Homo sapiens: one gene and its partners. The protein of the gene in region 1 interacts with the protein of each later gene in a pairwise test. Each region holds a gene or a part of one and is shown in the gene's direction. Other genes may lie near its edges.

Region 1 (7,020 bases):
GGGGAGGACTCAGCTTCAGGATGTTTAAAATTTAATCACGTTAGTAAGAAAATGGAAAGAAAAGACTAGACCTTTGTATTTTATTTCGTCTTCTACTGCCGTCTTGCAGTTGATCTTCCGCCTTCTCCTGAAGTAGTTAGGACAACTCCCTGTTTTCACAGAGGGGCAGAGCGAAAGCAAGTATCTTCTGTCATTGCTGAAGCAGGACGGCTCCCGGCAAAGATGCTGGGCTTCATCCAGCCCCATTCTAAGCAGCTGGGCCTCCCCACCTGCAGTCTTCCTGGATTTTGATTTTCTGCACACTTGGGCTTCCCACTAATTTGGCAAGTTCATACCAGTCCAGGCCCTTTCCTGGCAGAGGATGGCATTCAGTGCTGGTGCAGCCACTCCTCCAGGCTCCTCCCTGAATAAACAGAGGCCGGATGTTCTGGAGTGCTGTTCCCGCCAGGCCTCCTTGGGATGAGAGGGAGACCTTCCTCCCTCATGGAGCAGGGCCGCTCTAGCTCCATGGATCTTGGGGGTTACCAGTCTGGCACTCTCCAGGGAGTCCTGTTAAGAACACAGATTGTGGCTGTGTCTCATCGCCTCCCTGCCCCAACCCCATGTTCAAATCTGAATTGCTCAGTGTAGGGCCCAGAAAACTATTAAGTCCAGAAAGCTTTTTTGGTGGTTCTGATTCTGCTGCACTGGCAGTGGGAGCCACGGATGGCCAGTGATCCCATTTTGGGGAGGAGGAGCTGCGGCTTAGTGCCTCCTGAACATCTATCCTGCAGAGCATTTTCCCAAGCCTCCATTTTCCTTCTTGGGGAAACTCCCCAGGTACGCGGGCTTCTGGAGGTGTGAATATGGGGATGACATGGGAAGCGAGCCGAGACAGCACCTTGCAAAGTCTGGCAGGGTGGCTGGCAGTGCGAGAGTGGGGAGGTGGTCCAGAGATCTTCCTGGACCCCAGGAAGAAGCAAGCCAGAGCCTTTTCTTTTTGTCTTGCCCATCTGGCAGAATCTCACCATAATCATTTAACAGATTATACTCAGGCACTGTGACAGGGAGATAGAAACATCCTTTCAGATAACACTGGAAATGTTTCGAGTTATGATTGAAGTAGAGAGACCCATTTATTTTGCTTAAGGTTCAGCAGAGCCTCCTGAATTTTCTTAAAGATGAGATCGTTTTGCTCTTTCCAGATCTATTGCAAGCTGTTATGCCTCTTAGCAGAGGCGGAGCACAATCAGGAAATGAGTGGCCGTTCTCTCCTTCGTATTTCCAGCAAGTTGCAGTTGTGGCTGAGCAAGTTCCTGTGCGACTGCATGAAAGTGATTTGTTGGGGGGCAGATGAACAGCATGGCCAGATGCCTTGGAGCCCAGCTCATCCAGGACTTTCATTTTCCCCTCTGAAGAACAGCCTGTGTTGTTCACATGAGAACCGACTGCACCTCCGAGAACATCATTTGTCCCGTTTTGTAGGGTAGATTTGCCCTTTATGAGGGTGGAGCCTGTACACAGGACCTGCGGCAGCGTTTGACGTTGGCCAGGGCTGGGAAGGCTTAACTGTTGGATGCTATCAGGGCTGCTTGTGAGTCAGAAAGCTTCATACCACCCATGAGGCTTGCTTAGTGCTGTCCTCGTTTCTGGAATGACACACAGTCACCTTATATAAACCACTCTACATGTTTATTACTTTCTATTGACATTTAAAAATGATGTTCTGATGTTTATCATCCAAAGTAGAAAACCATTCATCATCCAGACCTACTCTTTCTCCTTTAAGTTTTGCTGTTTTAATATTGCTCTTAAATGTTTAAGAGAGCTTACAGAAGAAACTGAAGACAAAGGCCTTGCTTATTAGGATCTTTGAGACCCTCTGGCACTGGCGAACACGAGTGAACCCTGTGTCACACTTGACCGTGTTATTCTCCAGCCCCTCCTGGGTTCCCTTTTGTTGTGAGTCAAGTAGACACCTCTGATCTGCTTCTGCCTCAGAGCATAGACTCAGCTGGCCTTCTTTTTTTTTTTTTTTTTTTTGAGACGGAGTCGCACTTTGTCTCCCAGGCTGGGGTGCCGTAGTGCGATCTTGGCTCACTGCAACCTCCGTCTCCTGGGTTCAAGCGATTCTCCTGCCTCAGCCTCCCAAGTAGCTAGGATTATAGGTGAGCGCCACCATGCCCATCAGCCGGCCGTCTGAGGCAGGCTCCAGAGCCCCTTGTTTTGCAGGTGCAGGATTCATCTGTATGCATCATGTGGCACATGTGATACCATGTGAGGTATCTGGTGTTACTAAGTCGTCACGTATTTCGATGAAGGTATCTTTGGGACCTTGGCAGCCTTTTAGGAAGCCAGGCAGCTTGCAAAAGCTTAGGAAGAATTTGGGGGGAGAGGAATGAATGTAGTATTTTTCTGTCTGTCAACACACACACATATATATATATATGTGCCAGATATGAGTGGGTGCTTTTGGTAACCTTATCTCTAAATCCTCACCAGCTCTTTGAACTAGAAACTATGAAGTGTCTTACACATGGGACAGCAGATTTGGAGAGGCAGTGTGCCTGGCCTGTGATAAACAGAAAGACTTCTGTGGCTTTACCCCCATCTGAGTTCCTGAAGGGGTGACAGACAGACTTGCCTTTAGCGGGCCTGGCTGCTTTATACTCCCCAGGCACGGCTGCTTTATACTCCCCAGGCACAGCTTGAGGTGATAAACAGCCCTGAGTCCATCTTTGTATAGTTAATCAGAAATGTTGGCCTGTTTCTTGAACCTGGGTCTGGATTTAGGAGATGGGCCCGACTCTTTACTCACTCCTTTACCCCATCTGAAATTCACTGAGTGCCCACAGTGTGCGAGTCACAGTGTTAAATGCCATATAGAGGACAAGTCTGCCCACTTTGAGACTGTTCTCCACAAAGCATGTCCTGCCTCTCCCTGGTCCGAAGCAGGCTGTCTCTCTTCTGGAACCCATATTATTTTAATTTGAATCTTTTTGCTTAAGCTCTGCACTTTTCTGCTTTGTCTTGGGGTCACACCCCTGTTAGGAGTTCTGGGGCAGAGTCTGTGTGCTTCATCGCTGCCTCTTGATGCCTGGCAGGGTCCACAGGCTCAGAAAAGATGGAACGAGTGACTGTGGAGAAGGGTAGAACATGGGCCTGCCCAGAGCGCGAAGGCAGATACAGAAGAGCTGCCCGTGAAGGATGCAGGTGTGTCCCGGGAAGCCTTCCATTGGTTCCTAAGAACTGCAGAGTTGTCCTGGGCTCCTAAAGGTCCCCAGAGGCCTGCTCCTTTTTGTCACTTTGTGAATGGCCTTCTCTGCACAAAGGACTTCAGTATTGATTCCCTAAGTTCATCCTTACAGGTCTGGAGAAGCTCTTTTTTGTTTCTCCCAATGACACAGCATCTTACAGCAGGGCTGGAGAGGCTGGGAGCTGGCAGCAGCCAGACCCTACTTCCATAGCTGTGCAGAGAGCAGCCCCTGGCACTGTGAAAAGAGTCTCTTAAAAATTTTTTTTCGTGTGGCTGGCAGCAAGATCAGACACCGTATACGTGAAGGTTCTTATTCACTGTCAATTCAGAAAAGCCTAGAATCGCAGAGTGCCAGCTCTGTGCGTCAGGAGCCTGTAAACAGCTCAGCTGTCCAAGAGCTCCCAGCACAGAGCTGTGCCCCAGTGAACTGGGGAGACTTTTTACGGAAAATTCCTTAGCATTCAATTGGAGAACAAACGTTTGCTGTTTTAAAGTATCTTCCTCAGTGTTTATTAAAGTAGAATTATATATTTTTTTCAGTTATTTAAAAAATTCTTCCTTGACATTGAATGAATGAATAAATGAATGGATGGTTTAAAAATTCATACAGTGGGAGGATGGGAAGGCCCCTTCATGTGCAGAAGAAAAGCCAGCCCCTTCGCTGGCCCACCCTTTCAGGGTCAGTTCAGACCCCCAGCATCCCAGCGGGGTTAGCACTCCTTCCTGGGTTGGACGGTGTCTTCCCCGGTTCTGACAGCGCTCCATGCCGGGCGTCCCTGCAGTCTTGGGGCTGTGGTGACTCAGAATTAAGCTGAGTGCTCTCACTCTCGTGTACCCTGCCTGGCTGGCCTGATGACTCAGCATGGAGCGCTGGCTCCCTGACCCAGAGCACACTTGAACTGAATGTTCCAGGTCTGAGCCTCAGCCGAGCGTGGCTGGGCGAAATGGAAGCCTTTCTCTCCTGCTGCCTCTCCTGCTGCATTTTACCCCGGGAGATGAAGGTTTTGGAGACGTTAGTGACACATGGATGTTATCACAGTGTACAGCTGTGACAGGAGTAGCAGAAAGGTTAGCATCTACCTGGCCTTACCATCAGACAAACCTGGGTTCTAGAGATCTTAGGCAAAGCACTTACCCTTCTTGAGCCTCAGTCTCCCGTTGTGTGAAGTGGGCATAGCAACACTTCTGTTAGCAGGGTTGGGAGAATCAAGGAAGATGGTGTGTGGGAGGCGAACGTCCCAAAGCCTGAACTGATGCATGCGTGGAACTCCCGGAAACATATGCAGCCTGCTCTGTGGAGTAGAAGTGTGTTTGTGGATAGGTGTGTGGCCTCTCCACACAGCAGACTGTCCTGGCTGTCCGTGGGCCTTTCAGCTCTCAGAGAGGCCTGGGGTCTTGTTTCTTAGAAGCAAGGCCTCCTCTTATCCCCCTTGTATGGAGTGTAGCTGACTCCCCCGACCAGTGTCCAGGTGGCCCTTGGAGCCCTCCCTGGGGCTTCCCGTGCCCCTTGTGAGTGGAGGATGTAAAGGAACAGTAACAGATGAAGCTGCGGGGCCTTCGGGAGCCTTGACCCAGCTGCCAGACCCTGCGCCATGCGTCCATAGATGCATCTCCCCATCCTCTGCCCAAGATAGGCTGGGTCCTTGTGTCCTCCACTGTGCTGTGTAGAGCGCTGGCTTTACTCAGCCTCAGCTCCTCAAGGGGAGGGTCTCCCTCAGCTGTGTCTGTGCAGCCGCAAAGTACCAGGCAGGAGCTAGGAGCGCTGCCTGTGAGGGGGGACATCAGCCCACCTTACTGAGGGGCCGATTACCTGCACAGCTCTTCTGGACCCAGCTCTCAGGGGTGTAAATGTCACCGCAGATGGAAGGAAGGAGGGGTTTTCCAAGTGCCACCACCCTCTTCTGGGGGGTGTGGCTGCTGTGGACCGAATGCTTGAGAAGCCACTGCAGGTGGGAGCAGAGCCCCCCCGGGACTCAGGGGTCTCACCGTCCATCAGAGAGGGTCCCCTTGCCTGCATGGCAGCTGATGAACTGAGGATGTTTTTCTTTTGGAAATTGTATTTTGTACAGAATACACGTCCGCTGATGTCCTGTACACTGAGACCTAACAGGCACTTGTAGGGTCGTGTCTGGAGGATGGACTTGCCAGGTGGCTGACCATTCCATTTAGCATGGAAATGTAGCAGTTGAGAGAGGTCCTTTTCCTTGACTCTGTCTAAATTCAGAGTTTGCTTCCTGGGATGGAAATTTCAGATAGTTTCCATCTGTGATTTGTGACTTTGGCTTGATTAAAGCAGGTGGCTCCGCTCTTTTTTTTTTCCCCTGAAGAAGAGGTAGGTAGGTTCTAACATGCCCTGAAGCTAACTTCATGTGACCTTGGGCCACATTCCAGTTCCTACCTCTGCCACATGGAACCCGTGAGGCAGGCTGCAGGGCTGGGGCTGCAGGGAGGCTGGATGCTGACTCAGGTGCCCCCAGCAGGGGAAATACCAGCAGCTGCGGATGGTGCCTGGCCTGGAGACGGCTGACGTGTGCCCTGGTGAGGGGCCATCGAGGATGTTGAGGAGACGCCAGCAGATGTTCTGCTCCCAGGCGGACCCTTCTGTGCCCCAGCCTGGCCTGGCTTTTCTCTCTAGGCCTCAGGGAGATGTGTCAAGGAACCACAGTCAGTGCGGCTGGGCGCCCTGCTCAGCCAGGAGTTTGTCTGCAGAGCAGGCCTCTTCCCCAGAGCAGCGGCCCAGCCTGTTGGAGAGGTGGGTCGTTTAGGGCTCAGGTCCCTAGAGTTGTCTTTGGCTCTTTGCTTCCAGGCTGTGAAACTTTAGATAAAGTCTTAAGCAGAGAAAGTGACATCCTTGCTAATTAGTCCTCTTAAGACTCTCAGATAAAGGGGCTTCTAATTCTAACTGTCTTACTACCAACTTGGTGAGACAGACTAAAGAATTAGGCTTTGTTGAACAGGGCGCGGTGGCTCACACCTGTAATCCCAGCACTTTGGGAGGCCGAGGCAGATGGATCACTTGAGCCCGGGAGTTCGAGAGCAGCCTGGGCCCCATAGTGAGACCTTGTCTCTAAAATAAATAAATAAATAAATATTTTTTTAAAAAAAGAATTAGGCTTTGTAAACGGTAAGCCCAACCAGCTAGTGCTGGAGAAAAGCTGAGTCCATCAATAACTATTTGTGGAATAAAGAAATGCAATTGTGGCTGGGCGTGGTGGCTCACGGCTGTCATCCCAGCACTTTGGGAGGCTGAGGCAGGAAGATCACTTGAGATCAGAAGTTCGAGACCATCCTGGCCAACATGGTGAAACCCCATCTTTACTAAAAATACAAAATTAGCTGGGTGTGGTGGCACATGCCTGTAATCCCAGCTACTCAGGAGGCTGAGGCAGGAGAATCGCTTGAACCCGGGAGGCAGAGGTTGTGGTGAGCCGAGATCATGCCTTTGGACTCCAGTCTGGGCAATAAGAGTGAATCTTCGTCTCAAAAACAAAAACAAAAATTAGCTGGGCGTGGTGGCAGGTGCCTGTAATCCCAGCTACTCGGGAGGCTGAGGCATGAGAATTGCTTGAACTCGGGAGGCGGAGGTTGCAGTGAGCTGAGATTGTGCCATTGCACTCTAGCCTGGGCAACAGAGCGAGACTCAGTCTCCAAAAAAAAGAAAGAAAGAAAGAAAAAGAAACCCAATTGTTTAGGGCACAGAGCAGCTCAGAGTTTACAAAGACTTGTACCTTATTTCGTACCTTATTTCACTTAACTCTTGCAAAAACCCCTGGGAAATATGGGGA
Region 2 (6,979 bases), on another chromosome or scaffold:
GGGCAGATCACCTGAAGTAGGGAGTTCGAGACCAGCCTGACCAACATGGAGAAATCCTGTCTCTACTAAAAATGCAAAATTAGTCAGGCGTGGTGGCACATGCCTGTAATCCCAGCTACTCCGGAGGCTGAGGCAGGAGAATCACTTGAACCCAAGCTGGGAGGCGGAGGTTGTGGTGCGCCGAGATCATGCCTTTGCACTGCAGCCTGGGCAACAAGAGCAAAACTCTGAAAAAAAAAAAAAGAGGAAGGAAGGAGAAGAAAAGAAAGAAAGAAAAAGAAAGAAAGAAAAAGAGGAGAGGAGAGGGAGGAAGGAAAAAGAGAGAGAGAGAGAAAGAAAGATAAAGAAAGAAAGGGCCGGGCACTGTGGCTCATGCCTGTAATCCCAGCACTTTGGGAGGCTGAGGCGGGCAGATCACGAGGTCAGGAGATCAAGACCATCCTGGCTAACACGGTGAAACCCTGTCTCTACTAAAAATATAAAAAAATTAGCCAGGTGTGCGGGCACCTGTAGTCCCAGCTACTCGGGAGGCTGAGGTAGGAGAATGGCGTGAACCCGGGAGGCGGAGCTTGCAGTGAGCCGAGATCGTGCCACTGCACTCCAGCCTGGGCGACAGAGTGAGACTCCGTCTCAAAAAAAAAAAAAAAAAAAAGAGGGAGGGAGAGAGGGAAAAGACAAGAGGGATGGAGGAAGGGAGAGAGGAAGAGAGTGAAGGAGAAGAGAGGAAAGGAAATGAAGGAGAGGGAGAGACCCGGAGAAGGAAGACAGACACAAACTCTGGTTACTTGCAAAATTACATCCCTTTAATTCCTGGAGTAGACAACTGCCTATATGGTATGTCTCCAAGAACTCTGAAAATGGGCTCTTGCATTTGCTCTTTCATCCTCACCTGTTCAAGAGGTTTTTTTTTTTTCTTTTTTTCTTTTTTAGAGACAGGGCCTTGCTCTGTCTCCCAGGCTGGAGTGCAGTGGTGTGATTATGGCTCAAGCAATCCTCCCACCGCAGCCTCCCAAGTAGCTGGGACTACAGGCACACACCACCACACCTGGCTAATTTTTTTTACTGAAGAGACAACGTCTCACTATGTTGCTCAGGCTGGTCTCCAACTCCAGGGCTCAAACGAGCCTCCTGCCTTGGCTTCCCAAAGTGTTGGAATTACAGGTGTGAGTCACTGTGCCTGGCCAACAATTTCCTTTTTTTTTTTTCTTTTTTTTATTGAGACGGAGCCTTGCTCTGTCGCCCAGGCTGGAGTGCAGTGGCAAGATCTCGGCTCATTGCAACCTCTGCTGCTGGGTTCAAGCGATTCTCATGCCTCAGCCTCCCAAGTAGCTGGGAGTACAGGCACGTGCCACTATGCCTGGCTAATTTTTTTGTATTTTTAGTAGAGACAGGGTTTTGCCATGTTGGCCAGGTTGGCCAGGCTAGTCTCGAACTCCTGACCACAAGTGATCCAACCACCTCGGCCTCCCAAAGTGCTGGGATTACAGGCGTGAGCTACCGCGCCTGGCCAGCAGATTCTTAAGTTTTGGAAGGAAGAAGAGAAAGGACTCTAGGCACCTAAAGGCGGTACGTAAAGGATAGCAGGTGGCTGAGCACAGTGGTTCATGTCTGTAATCCCAGCACTTTGGGAGGCCAAGTTTGGGCGAATCACTTGAGCTCAGGAGTTTGAGACCAGCCTGGGCAACATGATGAAACTCCCCATCTCTACAATTTAATTAAAAAAAAAACAAAAAAACGGATAACAGGTAACTAAAAAAGAAAAAGGTGGCTACAAGACTGTATGCCTTCAATTGGCAGAGACCGTGTCTTATATTTTGTATGTATGCTTAATACAATGTACCTAGGACAGTTCCAGGCCTCATTAAACATTTGCTTTTTATTTTTATTTTTATTTTTTTTGGAACAGAGTCTCGCTCCATCCCCCAGGCTGGAGTGCAATGGCGTGATCTCGGCTCACTGCAACCTCCACTTCCCAGGCTCAAGTGATTCTCCTGCCTCAGCCTACTTGTGGGATTACAGGTGCTTGCTACCATGCCCGGCTAATTTTCGTTTTTGTTGTAGTTGTTGTTTTGAGACGGAGTCTCACTGTCGCCCAGGCTGGAGTGCAGTGGCACAATCTTGGCTCACTGCAATCTCCATCTCCTGGGTTCAAGCGATTCTCCTGCCTCAGCTTCCTGAGTAGCTGGGATTACAGACATGTGCCACCACGCCCAGCTAATTTTTGTATTTTTAGTAGAGACTGGATTTCACTTTGTTGGTCAGGCTGGTCTCGAACTCCTGATCTTGTGATGTGCCCGCCTCAGCCTCCCAAAGTGTTGGGATTACAGGCGTGAGCCACTGCGCCAGGCCTTAAACATTTGTTGATTGGCTGGACAATAAAGAACTTGCTTTAGAAGGAGGAGAGGACAAAAGAAAAAAAATGGATAGGATCTCTTTAGTTAAGTTTCAGCCACAGAACCTTTACTGGGACAACTCTTGATCACATGTCAAACTGCTTTCATTTGGGGCAAGAGGATAAGGGGAAGTTGCATGGTGGGAAGTGCAGAGATCTGGAAGACAGAAGATTTTACTAAGTCTCTTCCCCCAGAAATAGCAATGAAAAACAAATTTACTTGTATTCTGTCTGTTTTCCTTTGACTTGCCAGTCTGTCAGCTTATATCTTAATTATCTATCTCTGCTCCCTGTCTCTATTATTGTTTTTTCCTCTTTAATAATGATCAAGTCCAAAGAAACGTGAGAAGCCCTGTTCCTAGCACCTTTTCCTGAGTCACCAGGGACCCCCTCTTTCTCCCCCAGGGAATTACTGGGAACAAGTCTTTCTCATTGGGTCAGACTCCACACAGCACTAATATGGCTAAAAGCCAGAGTAAAGAACCAGGGAAAGCTGGAGTTTGGATGAGTCTGGTTAAAGTCCATCCTAGACAGTCCAAATGCCCTGACCCCAAAGGGGAAGGCCCTTCTCTCCAGCAGAGCCAGATTTTATGCAAGACATTTAGTATGTCAAAGTATCAGTCTCTGGCCTTGGAGGCAGGTCTTCTGGGCCCCGTTTTAGCTCCTCCCCTGGGTGATCCAGGTTAACTGAGCTCTCCACTCCTTTGTTCCCCCAAACTTTAGACCTTTGACCTAAGAAAGCAACCAAGAAAGGTCAGTGCAGGACTGGGAGCTCTTGAGGACACAAGAATTAGAGTAAAAGGAAGGGGAGAGTGGCATTAAACTAATAGATTCAGAACTGTAGCCTTTCCCCAGTCCAACCCTTCACAGATGGGTAACGGGGGAGGGTCCAGGTCCCTCTCCAACGCGAGTTCTCAAGGGCCTCCGGTTCCAGCCTGGCCGAGGAGCGCCATCTGGCGGCCAACCCCCCAACCTGGATCCTCTGCCCCATCCGACTTTCTGAAGCCCGAACTAGATCTGGGCTGGAGAGTTTCACCTCCTCTGCGTCACTCCGGGGACTCCGCCCTGCCAGGAACGCTCCTCCTCAAGCGGGGACAGGCCCAAGCGCCTCCCCCGCAGGAAAACTGCCCATCCTCCCTCTAGGGTAGACTGCTTCTCCAGTAGAGTCGGCTTAAAGCTCCCCCCAGGGATCCGCCCCGCCTCGTCGCCCACAGAGCGCCCGCCTCTCCCCAAGGGGCATCTGCCCCTCGTCCTCCAGTTTCCCCTTGAGGAGGGAGAGAGAACGTGCTGCACTGCGCCCCCAGGTTCAACCTCCAACCCGGTCCCTCCCGAAGAATGGATTCCTCTTCTCCTTCTCCTCCCCTGCCTTATGGGAGCCTCTTCCAGTCCACAGAACCCAAATCGAGGTTACTAATGAGCTCCCCTTCTTCGTGCCCAGGGGACCCCTCTCGGCCTCAGGCTCTGCTCCCCTGAGCTTGGCCCATGGCCCCGGCGCCCCTGGGACTCGGCCCCAGCCATCTCACCACCCGCGCCAGGGGGCGGGGCTCCCACGGCCCGGCCCCGGGTGGGCGGGTCTATCGTGACGTCACTTCCGCCCGGGCCTGGCCGAGGTTCGGGCTCCGTTGGCCGAGGGGGCCGTACGGAGGTGGCAGCTGTGGGAGGAGGCGGCGTGGAAGGCCGAGGAGCTCAAGCCCGGACCAATCCCCACGTTCCGGGCCGCGACCCTGACCCTGCAGCGTACCGGGAAGCGAAACCGGCCGGATGGGCCGCTGAGCCCGAATCGGGCACTGGTGAGGCTCGGGCAGAGCTGGCAGCCCCGGACGGGAGCGGGCCCACGGGGCTGCAGGGTCTGGGAGCCCGGGATGCGGGGTGGGGAGAGGAGAGGCTCAGGCCTACCTCTCCTGCTCGCCTGGCGGGGAGGCGGGAGCTAGAGGAGTCGCAGACAGGCGCGGGGGGCTTAGTGAGGCCCGCCTGGGGGAGGCCTGAGTGTAAGGAGGGGGCGGGGTGACTGGGGTCATTAATGGGGCGGAGGACCTGCACTTGGCATTCTCATCTAGAACGGTGTCGTCGGCGGGAGGAGGGGAGAGTATGCTACCGGCCAGAGCTTTGGGAAGAGGATGGCTCTGAGTGGGGGAGGGAAAAACCGAGAGGGTTGGAAAAATTTTCCATGGCCCTAATTGAGAAAGAGGTTTGAAGAGCCCTTCCCTCCCTAGAGGGTTGTGTGGAACACCTGGAGTAGGGTCTCCCTGGAGTTTAGGGGGTCAGTTACAGGATTTGGAAAGGACAGTGCTCTGAGAGTCCCCACACTGAGTGGGTGTGCAAAACCCTGGCCACCTCCAAGTATCTGAGCTTCCATATCTTTCCAGTGTGGAGCCCCCTGGAGCTGAGATCAGGATGTTCCGCTTCATGAGGGACGTGGAGCCTGAGGATCCCATGTTCCTGATGTGAGTATTCCCTCCCCCTCAAGCTCTCCCACTCCAGGTCTCTGAGCAGTTCAGGCAGACATCGGGGTTCCCATTGCTAGGAATGGTTGGAACTGGCTGGATACCTAGCTCCTACCTAGCAGGAAGTAGGCATCGGTGCCACTGTTGCTCTGTGCGTATTTTTTTGCAGGGTGGTGGAGGGATTGACAGTTTGGCGCTTCTGCCATCCATACTATGTGCTCACTCCACAGGGATCCCTTTGCTATTCACCGTCAGCATATGAGCCGTATGTTGTCAGGTGGCTTTGGATATAGCCCCTTCCTCAGCATCACAGATGGCAACATGCCAGGGACCAGGCCTGCCAGCCGCCGGATGCAGCAGGTAATGATGCTGAGACACACCTGAGACCCAAAGAAAGGTTGGAGGTTAGTTAGGAAAGCACTTAATTTTCTTGCACTACAGCCAACTGAGCAAGTGAAATGCTCTAGGAGTTGGGGAAAGGGTCAGGAAAAAGGGCTTTGTGACTCCCTTTTGAGAGGATGGAAAAAAATTGAGGCCATGGGCCTGGTTTGGGATTGTAAAGAGATAGGATGTGGTCTCTAATTTCTGTTCCTCATGTGTTCCTGTAGGCTGGAGCTGTCTCCCCCTTTGGGATGCTGGGAATGGTGAGTCTTTATCTCCCTGTGTCCTTCCATCTCAGACACACTCTCTACCCTTAGATATTATTCCCAAATGTGCCTCTTAGGAATAGTTTCATGAGTAACCCCAGAATCTTCTCTTTTTATGGCATTCACAAAGCTCTGAGCCTGTTGGGTACTAGGAGCCCTGTGGGTTAAAGGTGTTAAACTCTTGTTGGGAGGCCGAGATGGGTGATCACTTGCAGTCAGAAGTTCGAGACCAGACTGGCCAACATGGTGAAACCCCGTCTCTACTAAAAATACCAAAAAAGCCAGGCATGGTGGCACACACCTGTAGTCCCAGCTACTCTTGAATCCGGGAGGTGGAGATTGCAGTGAGCCGAGACTGCGCCACTGCCCTCCAGCCTGGGCAACAGAGCCAGACTCCATCTCAAAAAAAAAAAAAAGAAAAGATGTTATTAACTGTTGTACTCCTAGAAGTTCATACGCATTAGGAAGATGTAATTGTCTAGCAAAATTTGTTCTTTTGAGGAGGGAAGTGCAGTTAAAGGGCCAACTAGAGATGATTTTTTGGTAGGTTTTAACAATTTCATGCCTTACCTCTTTAGAGTTTAGAATCCATTACTTTGGCTTGCTTCCTAAAGATGGGGGGAATATAGCAAGCAGGAGAAGGAAAATTGGATCACAGCAGTCACAGAGACTGAGGAAGGGGTCAGCAGTTCACAGGAGGAGAAATATGAGTATTCTGGTTATTTTAACAGAATGAGAAAGAGAACTTGCTAGATGTGAAGGAAGAAGAGAAAGGAAATGTGCAGCCATGTGGGTTGTGGGTTCCTAAACAGGATCAACTCTGAACACTGACTTTGCTTTCCTGACTCTGTTTTCCATCTCTTTCCTCCAGTCGGGTGGTTTCATGGACATGTTTGGGATGATGAATGACATGATTGGAAACATGGTGAGACTTGCCCCATACCCTTCCCCGGCCTTGCTCTCAGTGATGGCTGACAACACCTTGCATCCTCTAAGGCAAGAGGGAAACAGTATGCTAGTGAAGGGTAAAGTACTGGATAAAGTAATTGAACCAGAGAGCCTTGGGACCCTGTACCTGCTGTCATGCCTGCCTGAAGCAGCCGGCAGCAGCTCTCTTACGTAGCATACAATTAAGGCCCTGTCTCTTCAGGTCCTTCTTGCTCGTGGTTGGACTCAGAGGAATTTGGGAGGGTAATGATGAGGCCTGATGTTTTTTCAGTTCTTGCATTTTGTGAGAAAGATACAGGCTAGAACAGGCAGCTGAAGGGTGAAATCCCTTCACCAGGGGTGATGCCTCCCCATTCAGCCCTCCCCTACCTACCCTGTCCTCAGGAACACATGACAGCTGGAGGCAATTGCCAGACCTTCTCATCTTCCACTGTCATCTCCTACTCCAATACGGGTGATGGTGCCCCCAAGGTCTACCAAGAGACATCAGAGATGCGCTCGGCACCAGGCGGGGTGAGTTGGGGAGCCCTCCTGTCCCAGAGAAGGTA
Region 3 (7,664 bases), on another chromosome or scaffold:
TGTCCTCATCTGTAAAATGGAGACACCACCACCCTTGCCATGGAGGTTAAGCACTTTAACACAGTGTCTGGCACTTGGGACAAAAACAAACAAACGAAAAACATTTCAAAAGGTATTTATTGAGCACCTGCAGGCGTGACCTGACAGCCCAAGGGTGGGTGGGGTGAGGGCTTGAGGACTTGGGCGGGACACAGGCTCCAAACTGGAGCTTGAAATAGTGTCTGATGAATGTTAAATTATCTATCTATCTATTTATTTATTTATTTGAGACAGGGAAAGGGTCTCCCTCTGTTGCCAAGGCTGGAGTGCAGTGGCGCAATCTTAACTCATTGCAACCTCCACCTTCTGGGTTCAAGCGATTCTCTTTATTCAGCCCCGGGAGTGGCGCGCGCCACCACGCCCAGCTAATTTGTGTATTTTCAGCAGAGACGGGGTTTGCCATGCTGGCCAGGCTGGTCTCGAACTGCTGGATTCAAGTGATCCGCCCATCTCCGTCTCCCAAAGTGCTGGGAATTACAGGCGTGAGCCACCAAACCCGGCCTGATTAAAGTTAAATAAATACTAGTTCCCTTCTCGTCCAAAGGAGCAGGGAATGGGAACCGGGAAGGCACGAAGTCTCTAAAGCATCCAGAAGACCCCTACACCAGGGTCTGGTCCGCTCCTATTCGCCGCAGCCTTTCTGTTCCGCCTGCAACCCATTTTCCAGACAGTAAAACGGCGGCGCACTTCTTTCTCCGTCAGGCACCAGGTCATAAGGAACCCAAGAGTCTGTGCCTCTGAGGCCCAAATTATTTGCTGTTTCCTCAGGGGAGCCGGCGGCCGCGACTCCCACGCCGCGCCGTTACCGCTCCCTCTCTGCTGACTGCTCCCCCTAGGGGCAGAGACGGTCCCGACGCCCGCCATCCCGCCCCGGCCTCACCCCTCCCCGCCAGGCGGAACGACGCGGGGAGGCGGGCGCTCGGGGCTCGCGCCAGGGGCCCCAGAATCCTTCGGGGAGAGTGGGTGGGAGGAAGCTGTGTGGGCGGGGAGCCCCCTCTGCCTTAGGGAGCGGCTGGGCACCCATTCGCCCCATTCAGGGGCTGCACTTTATAGACGTTCCCTAGGCTGTTTCTAGGCTCCCCCAAGTCCCTCCTCCAGCCTCGTCGGGTCCCTCAGACCCCAGCCCAGGACCTGCGGAGGGCCGCAGCGAGGAGAGGCCAACAGGCCTTTCCCTAGAGTTGAACCTGGGCCGGGTGTTGCACCTGGAAGAACCCCCGATTTCCTGGGGACCCAGCAGGGCAGGCGGCCTGGCTCCGCGCTCAGGTCCGGACGCTTGTTTATGAGAAGAATTTCCTCTTTCTTAAAAGGGCAACGATGCGAGTGGGTCCCTCAAGGAGAGAAGAGATGGGACCGGTCTGGTGCGACCTGGGCAAGCGCTGCAGAGGGTACCTGGGCAAGAGGGCCGCCCGCCTCCTCTGGGTTTGGCACTGGAGAAGATGGGTCCATGCCAGCTGAAGGAGGAGATGGATGGGGGACGTTTAGCGAAGAAAGGCATCTCCCAGATCCTTTAGCCTCCTGGAAGTGCCCCCGTTGTACCCCCTACACACCCCTCTTGGCATTGAGTGCCAGTCCTCTGCCAGGCTCTGTGTTACAAGTTGGGGAGGGCGGCAAAGTCCCGAATTAAAGATGTCAGTTCTCAAGGACCCCACACTCCAGCGGCGGGAGACAGCTGTGCAAACAAGTCCCTGTGGCAGGATGCGGTGAAGGGCGCTGCCCGTGACGCCAGCCAGGGAAGGGGACTGAATCTTGCTGAAGGGGGGGTCGGCGGTAGGGGGGAGTGTTGACAGGACAGCCCAGGAGGAATGAGAGTGCCAGGAGCATGGGGGCACGTGTGTGCACATCTGCCAAGACCTGAAGCTTTCTGGGGACGTCTTAGATCTTGTGGGGCAGGACGGGGGACGGCAGAGTAATGGGCAGGTTGGTCAAGAAGACACGGAGACCCGGCTAAAGGGCTACCCAGGACCTGGGCAAAGGGCTAGTGATGAGGTCGCGCCAAGGTCAGTCATTTGGACACTGGAAGGCGTCTACTTAGAGCTGCCCCCATTCCCCCCATAGTAGCTCTGGTTCTTCCAGCCTGGCCTCAAATCGACCCTCCAGGAAGAGGGGTGCAGAGTTGCTCTTCTGGAAGCTCCCTTTAGGCCTCCCAGGGAGGGCGTGGTCGCACTTGGCACTCCCCAAGAGCCTGCTGAATGCACCCCGACTTTGTGCACGGCTCCCCGCCTCCCCCTGGGTTGGGCTTTTACCAGCCCTGTTTGGCAGATGGGGAAACTGAGGGACTGTGTTGGAAGAGACGCTTCCAAATCCACAGGTGCCAGACAGCACCTTGCTGAATCCCGTTCCTGCCCCTCCCCGTTTCTGACTTGTGGCCCCCATGATTTTATTTTTCCTGGGGTGCGAATGATAAAACAGACAAAAAATAGAGTGCATAAAGCGACCTCCACCTGTAGAGACAGAGGGCAGCTGGGTGTAGACAACCCCTACAGTGAGGACACTCGAAGGACCCCCCTCCCCCCACGCAATCCTGGCCTCTCGCTCACTCCGTAACTAACTACCCGCCCCAGGCGTGGGGAGATAAGTCCAGGGCTCCAGGCAGAAGGCGCGGCTACCTCTGCCGCTTTGGGAGCCTGGGAGGAGGAGTTAGGTCTCCCTGGGAAAAGAACTGCACGGGCAACGGCTTGAAGTGGCGATAAGATGGGGTGGAGGAGGTGGGGGATTCCTGAGGAATCCTGTGAGCTCAGGATGGCGCGTCTGGGAATGGTGGGTGTGGGGACAGCCGGCCAGGTACCAGCCCCCTTCACAGAGGGAGAGGAAAGCGCGCCACCCAACCCAGGCCAAGGGCGAGGCCACGACTCCACTCAGTCCCTCGCCACACGCTTCCTTTTGGGGTCATGAGGGCCCCGCATCCGGAGATAAAGCCGAGGCCCCACCCAGGGGGCCGGACCGCAGGGGAGACAGATGTCCCGCTCCCAGGCTGGAATCCCGCCTTTGCCCTTGCCGGTAGACCCGAAGCACGTCGCTTCCTTTCTTGAAACTCAGTTTCCTCATCTGTGAAATGGGTTAAGAAGGAGGCCGTTCTAAGGGGTAAATGAGATTAGGGGGCGCAGCCAGAGCAGGCCTAGGAAAACGCCAGCAGCGTGTGGCGATCACGGTGATGAAGCGCAATGGTGGCCGCCCCGTGGGCTACCCAGGAGCAGGAGGAGGGCCGAGGGATCCAGCCCGGGGACCGGGGTATCAGTCCCCGACAGTCCCCTCCCGCCCCTACTCCCAGCCTCAGCGCACGAAGCCGCCGCGCCTTCTGGCAGACGCCGCTCCCCTCCCTTCCCCTCCCGGCCCCCGCGCGGGGCCTCCCCTCCCCGGCTCCCCCTCGGCAGGGCCTGGCGGACGTGCGCCGCGTCGCACCCGGCGGCCGGACGGGACAGGACGCGCCCGCCCCGCCCCGCCACGGAGGCCCGCGGGAGAGGGGGAGGGGAGGAAGTGCCGAGGGGTGTTTGTCGGGCTTGGCATTATTAATTTTTAAATGGTGAACTTACAAAATAGTAACGACGAGTGAAAAGAACTTCATAAACGAGGAAAAAGACCAACCCGCAGACCCACGGCGCGCACCACGGAGGGGCTTGCAGCGAGAAGACAGGGACCTCCGTTCCCAAGTGCCCAGCACTGCGCCACAGGCCGGGTGGAACGGGCCTTGAGGGCCTCTGGTTTGAGGTCCCCCACGGTCGGGCTTTGGGCCCACCGCGTGCGGCGCCGTGCTGGGCTCCTAGGATCGGCAGCGAGTCCAGTGACTCCCACCGCACCCCCAGTAATCACAGGGCGGCCGTCGACCGCGGGCAGGGGAGGGGGTCTGGGAAGGCCCCTGGAGAAGGTGGCATTTCCTCGAGGTCGGTGGAATTTGGCTACGCGAAAGGAACAGCGCGTACGAAAACTTCAGGCGGGAACGCGCGGTGGCCCGTGCGCGGCGGGTAGACGTGCGGGGCCCCGGGTGGGGCCGTGGGGAGAGGTCGGCAGGGGGCTTTCCCAGGGCAGAGAGTTAGAATTTCACGTCCTACAGACCGGGGGCACCTCGCCCTGGGGCTGCGGGGGGCGGCGACCGTCCCATTCAAGAGCGTGATTCTGAGGTTTGCACAGCTGTTTCGGGCCAGCAGAGCCTTCGCTGGCTCTTGACGTCCTTGCGAGGTGATCTCTGCGACCACCAGACAGGAGAGAAGACCCATTTTACAGATGAGGTAGTGCTATCTCCAAGTCCTCAACGAGGAAACCGAGAAGCCTCTAGTCCCGGGTCTTCAGAAAACGCAGAGGTGGAGCCGCGCCGCACTCGGGCACTCCCCGGCGTGGGCGCTCCCGGCGGGCGGGCCTTGGCCGAGGGCGCTCGGCGGCCTGGAACGGTGAGCCGGGTGCCGGGCCTGCCACGCAGCCGCAGAGACTCAGCCCCGCCGGCGGGCGGCAGGAAGGGAGGCGACGCCCCCTGGAGCGCGGCAGGAACCCGGCCCGGCCCGCCTCCCAGTCCGCCTAGCCGCGCCGGTCCCAGAAGTGGCGAAAGCCGCAGCCGAGTCCAGGTCACGCCGAAGCCGTTGCCCTTTTAAGGGGGAGCCTTGAAACGGCGCCTGGGTTCCATGTTTGCATCCGCCTCGCGGGAAGGAAACTCCATGTTGTAACAAAGTTTCCTCCGCGCCCCCTCCCTCCCCCTCCCCCCTAGAACCTGGCTCCCCTCCCCTCCGGAGCTCGCGGGGATCCCTCCCTCCCACCCCTCCCCTCCCCCCCGCGCCCCGATTCCGGCCCCAGCCGGGGGGGAGGCCGGGCGCCCGGGCCAGAGTCCGGCCGGAGCGGAGCGCGCCCGGCCCCATGGACAGCTCGGCCGTCATTACTCAGATCAGCAAGGAGGAGGCTCGGGGCCCGCTGCGGGGCAAAGGTACCGGGGCTGCGGGGAGGGGGCCGAAGCCGGGGCGCCGTGGGAGGAGAGAAGGGGCCGGGATCTTCCCCAGGGGAGCCGCCGCCGCCGCCCCGGGCGGCCGCCTTAGCTGTGCCCGAAGCTCCCAGCCCGAGAGGGAGCAGGGAGAGAGTTTGAACTCAGAGGAGGCTCAGAGACGCGGGGCGGGGCCTGGCGCCTTTGGGGCGCTCCTGTTCGCTCGAGGTGAGGAAACTGAGGCAGGAATAGAGAGGGAACTCTTCGGGGGTTTCCTGGCAGGCATTGCGTGGTGCATGGGCGCCCCCCCACCATTGGCGCCAATGGGGCTGGGAGATGGGGGAGCTGAGGAGGGCGCCTATGGGCCACCCGCTGAGACTCCGCCCCACCCCCCACCCCCACCCCCCCGGGCTGCGGTCCGGTAGGGTCTTGGGAGGGGGCGCCGAGGTGACAGCAGGCTGGGGAGGCTTGGAGGGATCTCCCGCCAACACACAGCTACGTTCCCCACAAACTTCGCGTCACGCGTGGAGGCGCCGACCCCCTCGGAGGCACAGAGAGGACGGCCGGCACTTCCAAGAGTCGCTTGGCGCCCGCGGGGAGAGTCGTGCGCCTAGTGGGCACGCACCACCCCGCAAAGCCTCGCCGCCCCGACGAGGCTGCGTCCCCCAGCGTGGCTGGGCCGGGGTGGGGGGGTCTGTCTTCTCCTTTTCCCCGTGTGGACCTCAGGATCTGGACGCTGCCCCCAGGTCTGCCCACCCTCGCCTGGGTCTGGCTGCCCCGGAACTGAGGGCAAGGTGGAAAGGCTAGTTGCAGGGGGCCGGAGGGGGGTGGGGTGGGAGGGGTATCTGTCAATCAGGCTGCTGGGCTCCAGGTCGGAGGTCTGGGCGGGGCAGGGCAAACAGATGGCCACTGGACACTGGCCCCAGGCCGCGGGACTGCACCCCTGCCTCTGGGCCCAGCCGCAGTGAGGACTTCGTACCCACGGGGGTGGAGAGGATGGAGGGAGGGCAGGGGTGGACTGCCCTGGGTCCCAGGCCCTGGCTGTCCTGAGCAGGGGTGCTCAGGTAAGGTGGGGTCAGGAGGCACCGCAATGGGGCTGATCAGCAGCAGTCATGGAGGCTGTGAGAGGCAGGGAGAGAGCACCCCAGGACCTCCTTCTCCAGGCCACGCACTCCCTATGTGGGCGCCTTAATACCTGCTAGACCTATTTGTCTGGGAGCTGCAGGAGCCTTGCAGTTGATTGTGGAGCCCTGACAGGGGCGTTTCAGAGAAAGTCAGGAGCTGCCTTCGTGTGTCTGGATGAAGGGGCCACGGCAAGATCCTCCTGGCTCAGGGGTTCACACCTGGGCACACATGCAGGATTCTGCAGGCCAGTGTGCACCGAGCCTCCAACTTGTGCCTCCCTACTTCAGGTGACCAGAAGTCAGCAGCTTCCCAGAAGCCCCGAAGCCGGGGCATCCTCCACTCACTCTTCTGCTGTGTCTGCCGGGATGATGGGGAGGCCCTGCCTGCTCACAGCGGGGCGCCCCTGCTTGTGGAGGAGAATGGCGCCATCCCTAAGGTGCGTGGGGGCCAGGTGGGGCCACGGGGGCACCTGGACTCAGTCTTCAGGGCTTTAGGGGAAGGGGCTCCTGACTGAGCTTTTCAGGATGGACTTGCAGACCTGAAAGGTGCAGAGTAGGAGGGTGGCAGCCTCCCCTGCCAGGCCCTGCCCACTGTGGGGAAACTGAATTCTCCCTCATAAGTGGAAGCTTTTTCCTACCTTGGTTTTTAGAGAGGTCTCAAAGAGCCAAGAGGCCTACCCAAGCCCTAGAGCTGGCAGGGGCAAAGCTGGGAAGGGGGAAGTATCTGTTCCTGGGGCCTGGGGTTCCTCTGGAGACGGCTAGGGGGAGAAGCCTGCGTGGGAGGAAGGACCAGGCCCGGAGAGAGGCACCCCAGCCAGCCCCGCCCTCCCTACAGCAGACCCCAGTCCAATACCTGCTCCCTGAGGCCAAGGCCCAGGACTCAGACAAGATCTGCGTGGTCATCGACCTGGACGAGACCCTGGTGCACAGCTCCTTCAAGGTGGGCCCTGCTCAACAGCCCTCAGCCCGGGTCTCGGGGGGCATCCCCCACCCTGGCCTGGGAGGGAGGTGTGTGCTGGACCCCATGCCCTGGGGCTCCTCCTCCAACTCCAGCAGCTCTTTTCCCCCCACAGCCAGTGAACAACGCGGACTTCATCATCCCTGTGGAGATTGATGGGGTGGTCCACCAGGTGAGGGCCAGGAAGAGGCAGTGGTGGGCTTGGCATCTGCCTCCAGACCCTAGGCTCTTCCCACCAATCCGGAGCGCCTCGGATGGGAATTGGATACATGTGGAATGTCAGAGGCCCAGAGAGGGTGTGAGACTTGTCCCAAAGTCACACAGAACCTCAAGGGCTTGTGCTGACTCCAAGCCTGCAGAGTGGGCTCCTCCTCTAGGCTCCCCCGTGCTGTGCTCCCTCGCCCCACCCTGCCCGGGACCCAGTTCAAGTAATTCAGGATAGGTTGTGTGCTGTCCAGCCTGTTCTCCATTACTTGGCTCGGGGACCGGTGCCCTGCAGCCTTGGGGTGAGGGGGCTGCCCCTGGATTCCTGCACTAGGCTGAGGTTGAGGCAGGGGAAGGGATTGGGAATTAGGGACCTCGTGAGGTAGGACTGGCCAGTGGAGTGGAAGTTTTGATCGTTTTCTGGCGGGGGGTGGGTACA
Region 4 (6,924 bases), on another chromosome or scaffold:
AGGGGCAGAAGGAAAGCAGGGTCAGATACCCCAACCCAGACATGCCTGTGACGTCTCGTCCATCACCAGCCCCCATGCATACCCTAGTGTCTTCTCACAAACCTCATTTCCCAACCCTAAGTGTAACCCTGAACTCTGATCAACACTGATACGACTCCCCAGTTTTACTTGTTTTGTTTTTTGAAACAGTCTTACTCTGTCACCCAGGCTGGAGTGCAGTGGTGTGATCAGGGCTCACTACGGAATCAACCTCCCAGTCTCAAGTGATCCTCCTGCCTCAGCCTCCCAAAGTGCTGGGATTACAGGCATGAACCCCCACACCCAGCTACGCCCAATTTTACTGAACACACCTCTGATGCTCAAATATTTTCCCAACCCCTTGATCCCTACATTTTCCTAATACCTCCCTCTGATGCCCCTGTAGAAACCCCGAATCTTGCTGAATGGCCCAAAACATTGTTAACCCCTTTCTGATAACCCAACATCCCCCCTCTGGCTCAACAATACTTCCCAGACTTTACTGAACATCTCACAATATTATTGTGAATCCTCTTCTGATAATAATCTCTGGAAACTTTACCCAAAAAATATTCTCTCTCTCTTTTTTTTTTTTTTTTTCCAGATGAGCTCTCTCTGTGTTGCTCAGGCTGGTCTCAAACTCTGGACTCAAGCATTCCTCCGGCCTCAGACTCATGAGTGGCTGGGATTATAGGCACTGTACCCAGCCAGCACTTACTCCAAAACAGTCTTATCAGACTTCCACAGATTCCCCTTCAGATGCTAGCCAACACCCTATTGATGTTCCCTCAAATCCTTGCCTAGTATCACCATATTCCTTCACTCCATTTCAAATCCCTCCACTGACTCCTGCTCCAAAAAAAAAACCTTTCCCCCAAGCCTTTCACACAATCCATATCTTTCTACTACATCCCTAGCTGAAACTGATTCAACACTGTCCCTCCACATTGTGCCCGACAGCCCAGTTATTCCTGATGAACCCATGTATAGAATTGTCAACCATCTCTGACACTTTCAAATGGACCCCAGCAAATGCTTCACTATACTTAGGGCAGACAGGGGCCAGGTGGTGTAGGGCCTCGTGGCAAGGATCTCTGAGCAAGATGGAGGGTTTTGAGCAGAGGAGGGACATGGTGTGAGTCGGGGCGGGGGGGGGGGGGCAGTGCCCCCTGTGGAACAGCCTGGGGTTGGAGCGGGGAGGAGGAGCAGTACAGGGAGACAGCGAGGATAGTCTGGCTGGAAGTGGCAGTGGACAGGACCCTCCAAACACCCCATGTATCCTGCAATTCCCAACTCTTATCTACAGGACAGATATTCACTCCCAAACTTCACACCCCAGCTTGATTCCTAGGCTGGGAGGCAACCTGACCTCTGCTCCACATGCCAGCCCCTCTCCCCTCCCTCCCCAGGTCCCTACCCTCCCCGCATGCCCCAGGGTGGCTCACTTTCTGGTCCCGGAGGCGTTCCCCGTGGATGACGTAGTGCCCCTGGCGGGCCCCCCCCTCGGGCCTGGCCCCTCGGACCCGACACACGCTCACCTGGCTGAGGCCCCCGCCCCCCACAGGCAGCCAGCCCCCACTGGAGTCATCTCGGGCCATCACCACAGCTCGGACCCGCACCATGTACCTGCAGGAGGTGGGGGGAAGGACAGGGACAACACAGTCATGAGCTCAAACCCTGCTCTCCCATGGAATGTTCCCTCAACCCTCATCTCCCCTCCAACTTCATCTCTCACGTCCAGGTCCACTGCACCCTAAGCTAGCAATACCCACCTTCAACCCCATGGCCACCGTCTTCCACACAGCTCCTTTCTTCCTCATGCCATCTCTTCTCTCTCACCTCTATCTTCTTCTCCATGTCTGCCCTTTCTCTCTGTACCCACCTTTCCCCCATCTCTCCGTCCCCACCCCCATAGCCCTGGTGTTGCCCTTCCCTCCCCCTCCTGCTTATCCCTATCACCCCCTTCTCCTCCCTCAGCACATACCCACAGCCCCACCCAGTGCTCCCCCTCACAGCTGGGTGCCTGCGCATATATATTTTCTCTGGGCCCATCAACTCAGCTCCTGTTCTCCCAACCCTGCCTCCGCACCCTGTCGTCCAGGCCACAGGCTGGGTGAGAAACCCAGGCTCTTTCCCCCCCACCCACCCCTTCCCGGATTTATGAATGAGACCGGATGCAAAGCTCACTGAGTCACCCAGCAACGGGAGATGGGCAGGGAACAGGGAGAGAACCAGAAATGGCCAGAAAGAGAGGCTCAGAGGGAGACGGAGGCAGAGGAAGTCAGAAACGGGCGACCGAAGACACATCCAGAGAGCATTTCATTCACAAAAATCAAGGCTGCTCCCCCAGGCCCCAGCCGAGGGAAGCCAGGGGGGAAAGATGGGATGGGGGGGCAGATTGATCCTTCCTCCCTCTTCCCTTCCCGCCCCCCAGCCCCAGCATCCTTCAGAACCATTTTACCCCGCCCCCCAGCTCAGAGGACGTAGCCCTCCGCCCAGTAATCGGGATCAGTGTCCAGCCCTTCACTGCCATCCAGCACAGGGACCCTGGCGTCCCAACCTTAGGGACCCGGACGAGCTCTAGCCCCCTCCCCCACCTGCAGGCTGCTGGGTTTCCCGGGCCCTTCAGGAGGGGAAGGGGCGGCTGCAGCGCCCCCAGCCCCCTTTTCTCAATGGGATGGGATTTTGTGAATGAGCAGTCACGTGACGCTGCTTCCTTTGTCCGCCCGCCTCCCCCGACAACAGGTGAAGCAGGGAATGAGAGCAGGGGTCCCCCCAGGGCCTAGCTGGAATGGGGCACTGGCATTTCAGGGTGGCCTACGCTCCCCACACATCCTGTGTCCCCCGGGGGGAGTGGTCCTCAGCGTTCCTCAACGGTGAGGGTCCAGGACGGAATTTTGTGAATGGGGCATCCTCGGAGAAAGTCCAGACCCCACAAATGAAGACTGGTACCCTGAATGGCTGCCGCGCAGTTTGGGGGGTCCCCACTCTCTAGTCCTCCTAGCCGGGGCCTTGGGGGCGCCTGGGTGGGCAGAAGGCGCAGCGCGGTCACGGCCGCCCCCTCATCGGGGCAGGCAGTCTGTCAGCCCCCGCCCCCTCGCCCCCCTCGGCACCTGCCTGCGAGGCTCCGGCCGGGCTCCGAGCGGCGGCGACGCGGCCTCCTCCTCCTCCTTTTCGTTCCGGCTCCCTGGCTGGCTCCGGCGGCGCTGGAGACGGGCACCGGGAGCCGGGGCGAGGGGGGAGGGAGGGGGAACCTGGAAGACGGGTGGGGGGGGAAGGGGCGGCTTGGGGGAGGGGTAAGAGCGAGGCGGGCTTACTTGCCTGCTGGGTCCTAGAGCCCGGCACTAGCTCCAGAGAGCAACCCCCCAGCCCCCATTTTCTTAAGATCCAGAGGGGATCCCCCACTTTTCCACCCATCTGCGCCATTGGTCTCTAATGCTATGAGGAGGGGACGGGGCAGGGACAGGGACTGGTCTCAAGGTTCTAAAGAGGTGGTGGTCTACGCTGTGGCTTGGGTGCCTGGCAGAGTTCGATAAGGGGTGGGGCGAGAGGGGAGCCTTCACAAGTGGGTGGGGTTGGAGGGCCTGGGTATAAGGAGGTTTGGATGCTGCAGGCGAGGACTAGTGCGTGCGTCACGAAGGGGCGGGCCCACGGTGGATGGGCCTTCTCGGCGCCCGGGGGGAAGGAGAGGGTCTTGAGAAGCGATGTTGCCGGGTCTTAAAAAGGCGGAGCTTAGAGGTAAATTGCCTTAGGGGCGGGGCAGATGAGAGGTCCAAAGGGGAGGAGCGACGCATCGGTGTTCGCGTGGGCGGGGCCTCGGGAGGGAATGAGAGGGGCGGGACATTCTAAAGGGGAGGGGCTAAGGAGAACAACCCAAAGGGGTGGAGCTTAGAACCAGAAGGCCTGGGGGCGAGGAACAAGACCTCGGAGTATTTCAAGGGGAGACCTAGGTTCGTAAGGGGCCGGGCTCCCGCGGGCTCGCAGGAGGGCGGGGCCTCGAGCTCCGGGGGCGGGGCCTACATCTCGGGGTCCGCCCTAGTTGTCTCGCCCACTTGCCTTCACCCGCACCCCCGTTCTTTTCGGTTATTTTCTGCTACGGCAGTTCCCTGCCCTGCCCCGGGCCCAGGGCGCCGCGGTCTGAACTCTGCTCGGCTGGAGGACTCGGTGAGTGGGTTCCTCTGGGGGGAGGCGGGGCCAGGGCGGAGCTTGGGGACAGGGGTGGAGCTTGACTGTGGATGCCAGCTAGTAGACCTGGAGCGGGAAGAGGTTTAGGGGTGAGGCCTGAGGATCTGCCCCTGCCTGGGAAGAGGGCGGGACCCAGGTGCTCTAGAGAGAGGCGGGGAGTCGGAGAGTTAGAGGAGAGGACTGAGGGATCAGCATGACCAGCCAAGGGGACAGGCATGGAACCTTAGTACATAATGGGGCTGGTAGTGAAGTATCTTAACAGCAGCTGTGTTGGGGACATGGGCAAGAAGGCGTGAGTGTCGAAGGTCGGGGAACAGGAGTGCGACCTAAGGACTTGGGCCTGATCGGATCTTGGAGAACAGGGGCGGGGCCGGTGCGGACGCATTAGATCAAGTACAGCCAGCCTCGTAGGGTCCCCACGGCCCTGGCAGGCTGACTGGAGTAAATTTTTCTGACTAGTCTCCGAGCTCCGTCAGAAATGGGGAACTTGCAGTCGGAGCCATCCGCGGGCGGGGGCTCCCGAAAAGTGCAGCCCTCGGACCGCGCCCCCGACTCCCGCCGGACGTCCCTGGTGGAGCCCGAGATGACCTCCCAGGCCATGCGCCTGACTCGTGGGCTGGGTGTCTGGTTCCCTGGCAGCGCCACACCCCCGGGACTCATGGTACCCCGGGAGCCCCAGGCCTCACCCTCGACCCTGCCCCTCACCTTAGAACGGCCCTCTCCAGTGATGCCCCCTCCTGAAGAGGCGGCCGCGGTCTCTGCACCACCCCCGGCCCCCGCGGGGACTCTGCTGCCCGGCCCGTCTAAATGGCAAAAGCCCGCGGGCACTCCAGTTCCCCGGATCCGCCGCCTGCTGGAGGCGAGCCATCGCGGCCAGGGCGACCCTCCGAGCCTCCGCCCGCTGAAGCCGCCGCCGCCGCCCCGGCAACTATCCGTGAAGGACACTGTCCCGAGGGCCCCATCCCAATTTCCGCCGCCCCTGGAGACTTGGAAGCCGCCACCACCATTACCTTCTGAACGGCAGCCGGCGGACCGCAGAATCACTCCTGCTCTGGCCACACCCGCCTCACCCCCGACAGAAAGCCAGGCTGGGCCCCGCAACCAGGGCCAGACGGCCGGCAGGGCTCGCGGAGGGGCGCCTCCCCATGCGGGCGAAGGCGAAATGGCCCAGCCTGCGGATTCCGAGTCCGGTCTGAGCCTGCTGTGTAAAATCACCTTCAAGTCGAGGCCCTCTTTGGCCCCTCCGGCAGCCTCGAGTTCCTTAGCAGCCAAAGCTTCGCTGGGGGGCGGCGGAGGCGGCGGCCTCTTTGCTGCCTCAGGTGCCATCTCTTACGCCGAGGTCCTGAAGCAAGGGCCCCTGCCTCCTGGAGCCGCTCGCCCCTTGGGAGAGGTTTCTCGAGGGGCACAGGAAGCCGAGGGAGGTGATGGAGACGGCGAAGGGTGCTCTGGTCCTCCCTCGGCGCCTGCGTCCCAAGCCCGGGCCCTACCGCCGCCACCCTACACCACCTTCCCAGGCTCGAAGCCCAAATTCGACTGGGTTAGCGCTCCCGACGGCCCTGAACGCCACTTCCGCTTCAACGGGGCTGGCGGAGGCATCGGGGCGCCGCGACGGCGTGCGGCCGCACTCTCTGGGCCTTGGGGCTCCCCTCCGCCACCACCAGAGCAGATACACTCAGCTCCCGGGCCCCGGAGGCCCGCACCTGCCCTGCTGGCGCCGCCTACGTTCATCTTCCCAGCACCCACCAATGGCGAGCCCATGCGCCCGGGGCCTCCAGGCCTGCAGGAGTTACCACCGCTGCCACCGCCCACACCGCCGCCCACACTGCAGCCACCAGCGCTCCAGCCAACGCCGCTGCCGGTGGCTCCCCCGCTCACCCCGGGTCTGGGCCACAAGGAGTCAGCCCTGGCTCCCACCGCAGCCCCTGCTCTGCCCCCAGCCTTAGCCGCCGACCAGGCCCCGGCCCCATCCCCGGCTCCAGCTCCCACCGTGGCTGAGCCCTCGCCGCCTGTGTCCGCGCCCGCACCCGCGGCTGCGCCCATCAAGACCCGCACGCGCAGGAACAAGGGTTCCCGTGCAGCCCGGGGCGCGACCCGTAAGGATGGCTTGCATGGAGATGGTCCTCGCGAACGAGCTACAGCTACCGTGCCTGACAGCAGTGGTGGAGGGGGTGGTGGCAGCGGGGCCTCTCAGACTGGGGCAGCTAACACCCGCGCTGCGCGCCACTGGCTGCCCTTCCAGGTGCTTAACTCCTGTCCCTGCAAGTGTTACTGCCACCACCAGCCACGCCATCGCCGCCTGCCACGCAACGTCTCTGCCTGGTGAGAGGGGAGAAGGGACAGGAGGGTGCCGAACCCCAGACTGCTGGATAGAGTCCTACTCAGCCCTTTGGCTTCCTGACCCTAGAATGACCCGTGGCCTTCATCTCTGCCACATCTCAAACCTAGCTGAGCTCCCACCCTTCAGGACCAAGAGGACCCATGATCCCATGCTGACCTTTGACGGGGAAAGGGGGACACCCTGGCCCAGCCCTATGGCATCCAATCCCTAAGTGGACTCTTGGCCCTCCTGTACCTCTCTTGGAGCCATTAGAGAGGGAGGCTGGTCCCAGCTGGCCTGACCCTATACACTGCCTTGACCCTGTCCCTGAGGGTATCAAGGAGGACCACGTCCGAGGCCACTCAGGGATGGGGGTGAGGGGATGACTGTCTTCCTGGAACTAA

Evidence for each region.
Region 2: the proteins of BAG3 (region 1) and MLF2 interact in binary tests that used the Homo sapiens proteins (3 or more experiments, as listed by UniProt).
Region 3: the proteins of BAG3 (region 1) and CTDSP1 interact in binary tests that used the Homo sapiens proteins (3 or more experiments, as listed by UniProt).
Region 4: the proteins of BAG3 (region 1) and GGN interact in binary tests that used the Homo sapiens proteins (3 or more experiments, as listed by UniProt).

What each region holds. Positions count from the first base shown.
Region 1 is NC_000010.11:119,654,377-119,661,396, forward strand, and holds part of BAG3 (BAG family molecular chaperone regulator 3), read left to right. Parts: intron 1-7,020. UniProt on the Homo sapiens protein: Co-chaperone and adapter protein that connects different classes of molecular chaperones including heat shock proteins 70 (HSP70s), e.g. HSPA1A/HSP70 or HSPA8/HSC70, and small heat shock proteins (sHSPs), e.g. HSPB8.
Region 2 is NC_000012.12:6,750,142-6,757,120, reverse strand, and holds the start of MLF2 (myeloid leukemia factor 2), read left to right. Parts: upstream 1-3,979; 5' UTR 3,980-4,182; intron 4,183-4,204; exon of another isoform or gene 4,205-4,239; intron 4,240-4,758; 5' UTR 4,759-4,786; coding exon 4,787-4,836; intron 4,837-5,066; coding exon 5,067-5,196; intron 5,197-5,444; coding exon 5,445-5,480; intron 5,481-6,354; coding exon 6,355-6,408; intron 6,409-6,815; coding exon 6,816-6,944; intron 6,945-6,979.
Region 3 is NC_000002.12:218,395,213-218,402,876, forward strand, and holds the start of CTDSP1 (carboxy-terminal domain RNA polymerase II polypeptide A small phosphatase 1), read left to right. Parts: upstream 1-4,655; 5' UTR 4,656-4,878; coding exon 4,879-4,945; intron 4,946-5,190; exon of another isoform or gene 5,191-5,275; coding exon of another isoform or gene 5,276-5,741; intron 5,742-6,351; coding exon 6,352-6,500; intron 6,501-6,713; exon of another isoform or gene 6,714-6,898; coding exon 6,899-7,003; intron 7,004-7,136; coding exon 7,137-7,193; intron 7,194-7,433; exon of another isoform or gene 7,434-7,510; intron 7,511-7,664. UniProt on the Homo sapiens protein: Preferentially catalyzes the dephosphorylation of 'Ser-5' within the tandem 7 residue repeats in the C-terminal domain (CTD) of the largest RNA polymerase II subunit POLR2A.
Region 4 is NC_000019.10:38,385,019-38,391,942, reverse strand, and holds the start of GGN (gametogenetin), read left to right. Parts: upstream 1-3,908; 5' UTR 3,909-3,968; intron 3,969-4,093; exon of another isoform or gene 4,094-4,120; 5' UTR 4,121-4,182; intron 4,183-4,662; 5' UTR 4,663-4,681; coding exon 4,682-6,522; intron 6,523-6,924. Other genes in the region: SPRED3 (sprouty-related, EVH1 domain-containing protein 3), read right to left, coding at 1,464-1,640. UniProt on the Homo sapiens protein: May be involved in spermatogenesis.